Regions from separate parts of the Homo sapiens genome. Here region 1 is linked to region 2. Evidence: fine-mapped expression QTL. A gene starts in region 2. The other region holds a variant in brackets. All regions are shown on one strand. Distances are from middle to middle. Region 1 overlaps ANXA13 (annexin A13). Region 2 holds the start of ANXA13 (annexin A13).

What was found. PIP is the estimated chance that this variant, and not a neighbour inherited with it, causes the effect. A credible set is the group of variants that fine-mapping cannot tell apart.
Region 1: its variant is the best candidate, but not a certain one, in a credible set for the expression of ANXA13 in tibial nerve (GTEx, PIP 0.67).

The regions. Positions count from the first base shown.
Region 1 is chr8:123,679,650-123,684,046 of GRCh38, forward strand. It overlaps ANXA13 (annexin A13), which reads right to left. Exons shown (of 11, transcript NM_004306.4): 11 at 1,145-1,710. The coding sequence ends at 1,591. Among named protein-coding and RNA genes, the nearest start is that of KLHL38, 28 kb to the left of the region's middle. The variant G/A (reference allele first, on the strand shown) is at 1,752.
Region 2 is chr8:123,735,233-123,739,629 of GRCh38, forward strand. ANXA13 (annexin A13) reads right to left here and starts at 2,161. Exons shown (of 11, transcript NM_004306.4): 1 at 2,088-2,161. The coding sequence starts at 2,102. All of the region lies in intron 1 of LOC105375739 (a long non-coding RNA gene), which reads left to right.

The sequences.
Region 1 (4,397 bases), 56 kb before region 2:
CCTGGGAATGAACTGCCCCAAGGGGAGTCAGTGTTCTACTTGTCTTTGTATCCTCAGAGCACACCACAGTGATTGGCAGATAGTAGGGAACTAAGCAGATGAATGAATACAGACCCATTCCCATGTACTTCAACTGATTTTTCCAATTAAGGCAGTTAGTAGCATGATTCCTGGTGTCAGCCAGCCCTGGATTGAAATGCTAGTTGACATGGTTTGGCTCTATGTCACCACCCAAATCTCATCACAAATTGTAATCCTCATGTGTCAATTGTAATCCCCAGGAAAGACCTGGTGGGAGTGATTAGATCATGGGGTCTGTGTCCCCCATGCTGTTCTCGTCACAGTGAGGGAGTTCTCATGAGATCTGATGGTTTTATAAGGGGCTCTTTCCGCTTCGCTCACCACTCTTTCTTTCCTGCTGCCACATAAGACGTGCCTCCTCCCCTTCCACCATGATTGTAAGTTTCCTGAGGCCTCCCCAGCCCTGCGGAACTGTGAGTCACTTAAACCTCTTTTCTTTATAAATTACCCAGTCTTGGTAATTTTTTACCGGTAATTATAGCAGTGTGAAAACAGCACTTGTAAATGAATTTAGATAGGTTACTTAATGTGTCAGTTTCCTCAACTGATAATTGGGAGTAATATTAACCACATAGAGCTGTGGGGAGGATTAAGAATGAAATTGGACTACTCAGTGTCAGGCACAAATAATCAGCCAATGAATGACAACTATGATTATTGGGCCAAAGTGTCCAGGTTCTCTTGACAGATCCCTCTATGTCTAGCAACACGTGGCTATGAGACTAAAGTTTTGGAACACAGAATCTATTGGTGTGGAACCAATTCACTTCAGAGGTAGACCATTGATCTTGATCTTGTTGGCACTTTGCTCAGCTTAATTGTATTTGAAGATCAGAGGGAAGACTCAAGTGGGTCAAATGTCTAGAGAAGAAAACCCAGTTAAACCAGGTAGCAGATTAGGGAATTTTACCCTTAGTTACAGTTTACAAAAGCAAGTGAATTGTTTCCTTATGACTAGCCTTGATTAGTGACCACTAAAAAATGTAGGTTTGAATTTCACAAGTCATACATTTCCCAGAGAAGAGCCCAAACTTATCAAGACAATCTTTGGAAAAGCAGCTGATAGAGGCATAATCCACAACTTTAATTAACAATGAGGCTTTCAAATTGAACACACAGAAGGAAAATTAATAAATTGTTTAATTTTGTCTTTCCTGTACCTTACTTGTGTGATGCATATCCTTCTAAATGTGCCATTACAAATGCATAGTTTTTTCATCAACTGCTGATTTCATTAGTGTTTAGAAAACATCCAGTTACCATGCTAAAAGAAAGTGAAGAGGCAGCCTAGATGCTTGCTAAGCCAGAGTTCAAGGTGCCCTGCCCACGCATCTTAACGTTACTGCCCTTAACTTACACAGCTTGGCCTGGCTGCGCCACTTAAGCTGCCAAGAAAGTAATCCGGGACTCTTAAGGGTTTTCGTGCGGGAGTCTCATTTGCAAGTTTGATTTGGAATGTGCTCTTGACAAAGGCGGTTCCACCCTGTGTTCCTATTGCCCTGGCTTGGCTCAGTGCAAGAGGGCTACTAGCAGTTTCCGGAAGTCCCCGGAGGTATCTGAGCGAACCATGTCAGAGAGAGACTTCTGATACTTCTCTTGGAACTTTGCTTTGATCCCCTGAAGGTCCACCTGTAGAAAAAATAACAGCAATGGAGATAAGAACGTTTATG[G/A]TGTGTTCACAAACAGTGGGCACTGTTCTACACATGTTATACTCATTTGCTCATTCATGCCTTAAAACAGCCCTTGAGATAGGGCTTTATTTCCTATCATTATTTCCTTTATCACGTTATTTCAATTTTGTGATCAGGAAAGGGAAGGCAGAGGTCAATTCCCCAAAGGTTGCAGAGGTGTCCACGTGTGTGTGTGTTCCACTAAAACTCTTGAATTTCTTTTTTTTTTTTTTTTTTTTTGAGACAGAGCTTTGCTCTTGTTGCCGAGGCTGGAGTGCAATGGTGCAGTCTCGGCTCACTGCAATCTCCGCCTCCTGGGTTCAAGCAATTGTCCTGCCTCAGCCCCCCAAGTAGCTGGGATTACAGTCAACCACCATGCCTGGCTAATTTTTTTCTGTATTTTTAGTAGAGACGGGGGTTTCATCATGTTGGCCAGACTGGTCTCGAACTCGTGACCTCAGGTGATCCACCCACCTCAGCTCCCGAAGTGCTGGGATTACAGGCGTGAGCCACCGTGCCTGGCCCTAAAACTCTTGAATTTCATACAGTTTTTACATGTTACAAAGTATTATCTTTCTTTTGAGTTTTAACAGTTATTTGAAAATGAATTGCCCTAAGCTAGCAGGACTGTACACAACCTGGCAGTGAGCCTGAATTGGCCTGCAGGCTGTAGTTGGTTGACCCCTGGTATAAAACTAAGAAAATTGTCAACACAGAGATGTGGAATTAAGCAATTAAGCAGTTTTTCCCTCATACCATGATTAGCAAGGATATTAGTACCAGTCAACACAACTCAAATCACTAGCAACTTGTAGGATTTATTTTGAATCTAATTTATTGGAAGCTTGAAAAACCCAGGTGCTAGAAGTGATGATAGGACTCAGGAGAAAAATAAATCCAAAGATTGCTCTGCCAGAAGATTCTTACAGCCTAGCAAAGGAGACGATACTTGTACCAGAAAAGATGTAATTCCAGGTAGAACATAATGGATCTCATAAAAGAAGCAGAGAACTCTTTTTAACCAGGAGTCTTTCTTTTCTTTTCTTTTTTGGCTTAGACCCTACCTTGTACTCCAGACCCAAAAAGTGTGGCTCAGGGATCTGATTCTTTCTTCTCTTGCCCCAGTGAGAGGGCTGAGCTGAGACAGTGAGAGAAATGATCAGGATGGGAGTATGTGGGGGAGTGAGGGAGGGTTTGCAGTGGATGTGGAGCAGGTGGCAGACACTACAGGAGACAGGTGGTGTCTGTCTCTCCCCCAGCCTGTGTGTCCCCCTGCTCCGCTGCTTGGCTCCTTGCCCCGTGCTGGGACACGGGCAGGAAGGTGGAGGGTGGGTAGGGATGGGGTGCACAGGGCTCTGTTCTGTGGCTTTGGGAGATTAGGAAATCTGGCCAAACTACTATATCTAGCCAGGCCTGAAGCCTTCTGAGGTAACTGCCCACATGTTGAGATGGCCCAGGACGTGTGGTTGATTCTGAGATGGGACAGAGCTTCTTGGAATAAAACACTCCGTGGGCCATGTCGGAGTGATCACGGAACCCTCACAAGCCCTTCGGATGGATCCAGTCTCTCTGGGGGTCATTTGGAATCCTGGGTCTTCATTGTGTTCAACCTGTCCCTTTTGAGTCCCTCAAGATCTCTCATCTCTCAGTGACTTTGGCTGGAGGTCGAGTTGCTAACAGACAGAGGGACGGACAAGGCAGAAGACCTGGAGAGAAAGGAGGGAGAGGGATTTGGAGCCATGGAGGAGAGAGGCAGAGGCATGGCAGGAGCAGAGCAGAGAGACTGGCAAAGGGAAAGAGGGGAGAGAGAGAGACATGGCCTTCAATAGAAAAAGATGAGTTGTGGAGGAGGAGAAAGGAGGGGAGGAGAAATTCCAGGAATAGAAATAAAAAAGCAAGAACCATCTTGTTGCAAAGTTATATTTAAAAACAGTGTCAGATGTTAAGCATTATTTGTTAAGAAGCCATGGATCAGAATTTGGGTTGGTGTCCCTCCCCCTTCACCTCCCCCTTCATTTAACCACTTTTTTTTTTTTTTTTTGAGGGAAGATGTCTGTGGTTTTCAAGTGCTTAGTTCCACTTCATTCCCCAAGGCTTCTCCTGCTGCCGATGAAATGCCACTTCCCCTTTATTTTGTACCACCTTCTGTCTGTGGCCCCATATCCCGAACTGTTAGCTGTGACCTTTTTTTTTTTTTTTTTTTTGAGACCGAGTCTCGCTCTGTTACTCAGACTGGAGTGTAGTGGCACCATCTTGGCTCACTGCAACCTCCACCTTCTGGGTTCAAGCAATTCTCATGCCTCAGCCTCCTGAGTAGCTGGGACTACAAGTGTGTGCCACCATGCCCAGCTAATTTTTGTATTTTTAGTAGTGACGGGGTTTCACCATGTTGGCCAGGCCGGTCTCGAACTCCTGACCTCAGGCGATCCACCCACCTCGGCCTCCCAAAGTGCTGGGATTACAGGCATGAGCCATTGCACCCGACCAGCTGTGATCTTGACGGCTGCTCCCAAGCCGTTGGCTCTTCCTCTCCCTTTTCTTTCTTATACATACACATTCTCCGAGAGCAAGCACAAATTGGTTTTTAGGGGGTGAAAAAGCCCTTAATTTTTTTATGTATAAAGCACTGATATCCACATGGTATAT
Region 2 (4,397 bases):
TAAACAGCATTGACTTATAACATTATCATTTAATTTATATATTTGTTTTGGTTGTGTAGCTGTTTCAAAACCACCAGCATTCTAGTTTTGTTTGTACATATTCAAGTAACTTTCTAATGCAAATAAGTTAAGCCATTACTGGGATAGTTTTTTGTTCTTTAAAAAGATTTTGTATTTACTTTTTTACATGTATTCATTCTTTGTGCACATGTTGAGTTCCTTTACTATTTTCTGAAATGTCATAGTGGTCCTGGTGTAGCCTCATGTGCTTGATTTCAAGGAGTTGTTAATGAGACACTGTTGGGAACAGAAACTAAGCCCCTAGAAGAGTTCATTTTTACATTACCTGTAAATACAGTAACAAACTTTTTGCAGGGAAAGATTTCCCTGCTTGGAAGTCACACCTGATGATGGCTGGTGGCTGGTGGAGGGTCCAACATGACAGATCACTGGGGGCTCATATTGGCCCCATGACAGAGCAGGGGTCATACCTATGATTTGGGGGGAAAATAAAGTGCTTACAGGCTGTGGGGCCTCTGGCTCTCCATTCCGTGATGGGTGGCTGAGAGGCTGCACGACTGTCGAGGGTTGGGAGTCCCCTTTAGGCAACTGTTGACTGCCTTCTGAGAGGGTGTACGACTGGCTCTGAGGATTAAAAAAAAATACATAAAAATGCTGGTCCACTCCTAAAGGCCAGCTGCTCCCTAGGTTGACTTTCAAAAGACAAAATTATCCTCCTAAGCTGTGAATGCAGGGTCCATTGATTATTCCTGGGGTCCTCTGCATCTATCAGAAATATTTGAAAAATAGGCTTCAGTTTCTCTGAAAGATACACTGAACGGATGGCTCATAATCTCTGCTGGTATGAAAATGCTATTTGTAGATGATTTGAAAAACAATGCCTTTCCTAAGAATATATTTGTAAGTTTGTAAACATCTGAGTGCAGCTTGAATATATAGCGAAGGAAAAACCTTATAGACAAAGTAACAGTTTACAGAAAGTTTTGGAGTTTTATTCTCTGCTCATAGTGTGCATGAAATATATCATTCTTGCTGTGGAAATTTACAGCAGGTACACAAAACCTTATTAAGATTTGTATTGGAATAGCTTTAGATATACTTCAATGTAAAAAATATTCAAGATTCAACTCTGATCTGTCCTGTGTGTAGTTGGTTCCAAAAGGTAGTGTTTTAGTCAGTTTTTAGTCATTAACTATTTATAGACACACTATTCAGGAGCCTAAACATTTCAAAAGAAATGTAAATTATTAAGTCCATTCCATGGATATTTGCAAATATGTGGATGTTTAGAAATAATAATGGAATATTTTCACCTTGCAATCCAAGTTGTGTGGACTTACATGAGTATTTACCTTGGTCTATTAATATTTGCAACATGAACCTATCTTTCCCACATAACTCTGAATGGGCTTAGTTTATGAAGTTTTATACAAATTTGCTACAAACTAACAGCTTTAGTTATACATTCTACAGATACATATTAACCATTTGCTCTCTGCAAGGCACTATTTACTGCCTTATTTTACATACTTCTTTCTCTTTAGCCCCTCTTAAGAGATTTTTGGCCAATAAGGGAATAATATATCCCCAGTGCTTTTTTTTTTTTTTTTTTGGGACGGAGTTTCACTCTTGTAGTCCAGGCTGGAGTGCAGTGGTGCAATCTCGGCTTATTGCAACCTCCGCCTCCCAGGTTCAAATGATTCTCCTGCCTCAGCCTCCTGAGTAGCTGGGACTACAGGCATGTTCCACCACACCTAGCTAACTTTTTTTTTTTTTTTAATTTTTTTAGTAGAGACAGTGTTTCACCATGTTGGCCAGGCTGACCTCAAACTCCTGACCTCAAGTAATCCGCCCACTCTGGCCTTGCAAAGTGCTGGGAGTACAGGTGTGAGCCACCGCACCCGGCCTCAATGCATTTTAAAAGCATGGTATGCTGTTGCTAAAACCAATATTAAAGGGTAACCATAGTGATAAAGTATACAAGTATCAGTCATGATTTTATAGTTTAAATTCTTCCACATGCTAACCAAAATTAAAACCAATTCCCAAAGGCAATGAGTACTTACATGACGATTGCCCATTTTCCTTTTTCTGAGATGGTTTTTCTGTATTTCATCAAGAGATCAGTCCTCCTACAGGCAAAGTTTACAACAGTTTTCCCCCCGGACATAATATCTCTTGTGTTTAATAAGTAACTTTTGGCACTGAATTTGAATACATTGTTGGGGATGGGTAGGGAGTGGCTCTAGCTACAGATAAACTTAGACTGCCCAGGTTTCCTTGGTACCCATGTTTTTAAAATAATATACTTCTTAATAAATAAAGTTTAGGCTTTTAAAGTTGAATAGCTTCTTCCCACCTAAAAGACTAAACCTGCCTCACTTCTGAATTGTTGAGTTATTCTTTCATATTCTGGTGTTCATTTAAAATATTATGCCTTTTAGTAATGAAAGCATTAACCAAATAGAAAAATATTACTATTTTTTACTAACATTGTTATTATTATTACAGAGAATTTTTCGAAGGCTACATTGCATTACACTAGATCATTTAAAAAATTTTACTGAGTTTTGAATTTAAAAAGTAATATGTGCAGATGGTAAATTTGTTTCTAATAATACATAAAGGTCCTGTGAAAAGTCGGCCTACTGACTTCCTTTTTCCTTCCCCCAGAGGTTTTCCGTGAGTCCTTCCTGAAGTGGTCCATGCATATTCAGCTATGTCCGTCGGTCTGCCTGTCTAGTTACCTACCTCTCTGTTTATCTTGATCCAACTTGTCTTTTCTTCCTCACCAAATGGGTTTGTACAATGTATTCTGTTCCATGCCTTGCATATTTCTTGTCTTTCCTTTTTTTTTCTGAGATTATTACAACATGTTTCTTTTTTTATTTGTACAAACTTATGTGGTACATAAGACATTTTGTTACATGCATATAATGAGTAGTGATCAAGTCAGGGTATTGAGAGTGTTTGCCTGAGTACAATAGATTTCTGTTGAGTACAGCCACCGTACTCTACTATCCAACACTGAATTTATTCCTTCCATCTTAGTGTGTGTTTGTACCCTTTAACCCACTTCTCCTCTTCCCCCGCAACTCACCCTTTCCAGTCTCTTTTCTCCATCTATCCACTCTCTACCTTCATGTGATCAATTTTTTAGCTCCCACATTTAAGGGAGAACATGTGATATTTGTTATAAGGGAGAACATGTGATATTTGTCTTTTTGTGCCTTGCTTATTTCACTTAATATAGTGTATATTTCATATACTAAAGAGATATTTGACACTGGCACATTTCTTTTTCAGTGGCCATGTAGTCAACTGTTATGGATATGAACCAAACCTTATTTCATCAGTCTACCGTTGAAGGTCATTTAGATTGTTTTTGATCTTTTGCATGAATATCTCATACACATCTTTGTTGTGCTTTCTTATCTGTAGAATAAAATCTTAGAATAGAGTTGCTGGCTAAAGACTATGTGCACTGAAAATTCTGATAGCTGTTGCCAAGTTGTCCTCCACACTGACATAAAATGCTGGACCACTCTTAAAGACCAGCTGATCCATGAGGCTTACTTTAAAAAAATGAAAATTTCACTCCCACTATATGAATATACCAGTGTGATTTTCCCTACATATTGGCTAACACTAAATATTGTCAAACTTTGTCATTTCTGCCAACTTCAAAGATAAAAACATGGTGTTTTATTAAATTTACATTTCTTTCATTTGATATCCTGGAAATTGTATATCCCATTTCTTTAAAGCCATTTGTGTATTTTTTTCTGTGGTTTGCTTGTTTGTGGTCTTTATTTTTCTTTTGAGTTATTAGTATTTTCATTATTTGTTTGTAAAACACTTTATTTATAATAAAATCTAGGCCTTCATGAAGTGTAACAATTATTTTTCCCCAGTTTGTTATCTTTTGTCTTTGTTTGTTTTGAGGGTATATATGTGAAGAAAGTATTAGCTCTGATGTATTCAAATATATCAGTCTTTTATTTTTGACTTGCTTAGAAAAACCATTTCTGCATTAAGATGCTTAAATCTTCTTGCATAAGTGTTCCTCCAAGTTCTTTTAATGGCTTAATTTTCAAAGGCTTATATCTTTGATTCATCTGGAATTGATTTTGACATACATTAAGGAAGGAAGGGTGTGTTAGGCTGTTCTTTCATGGCTATAAAGAAAGAACCGGAGGCTGGGTAATTTATAAGGAAAAGTGGTTTTATTTTGGCATATGGTTCTGCAGGCTGTATAGGAAGCATGGTGCTTCCTTTCTGGAGGGCCTCAGGGAGCTTACAATTATGGAGGAAAGTGATGGAGAACCAGTATGTCTCATGGCAAGAGCAGGAGCAAGAGAGGAAGTGCAGAGGTG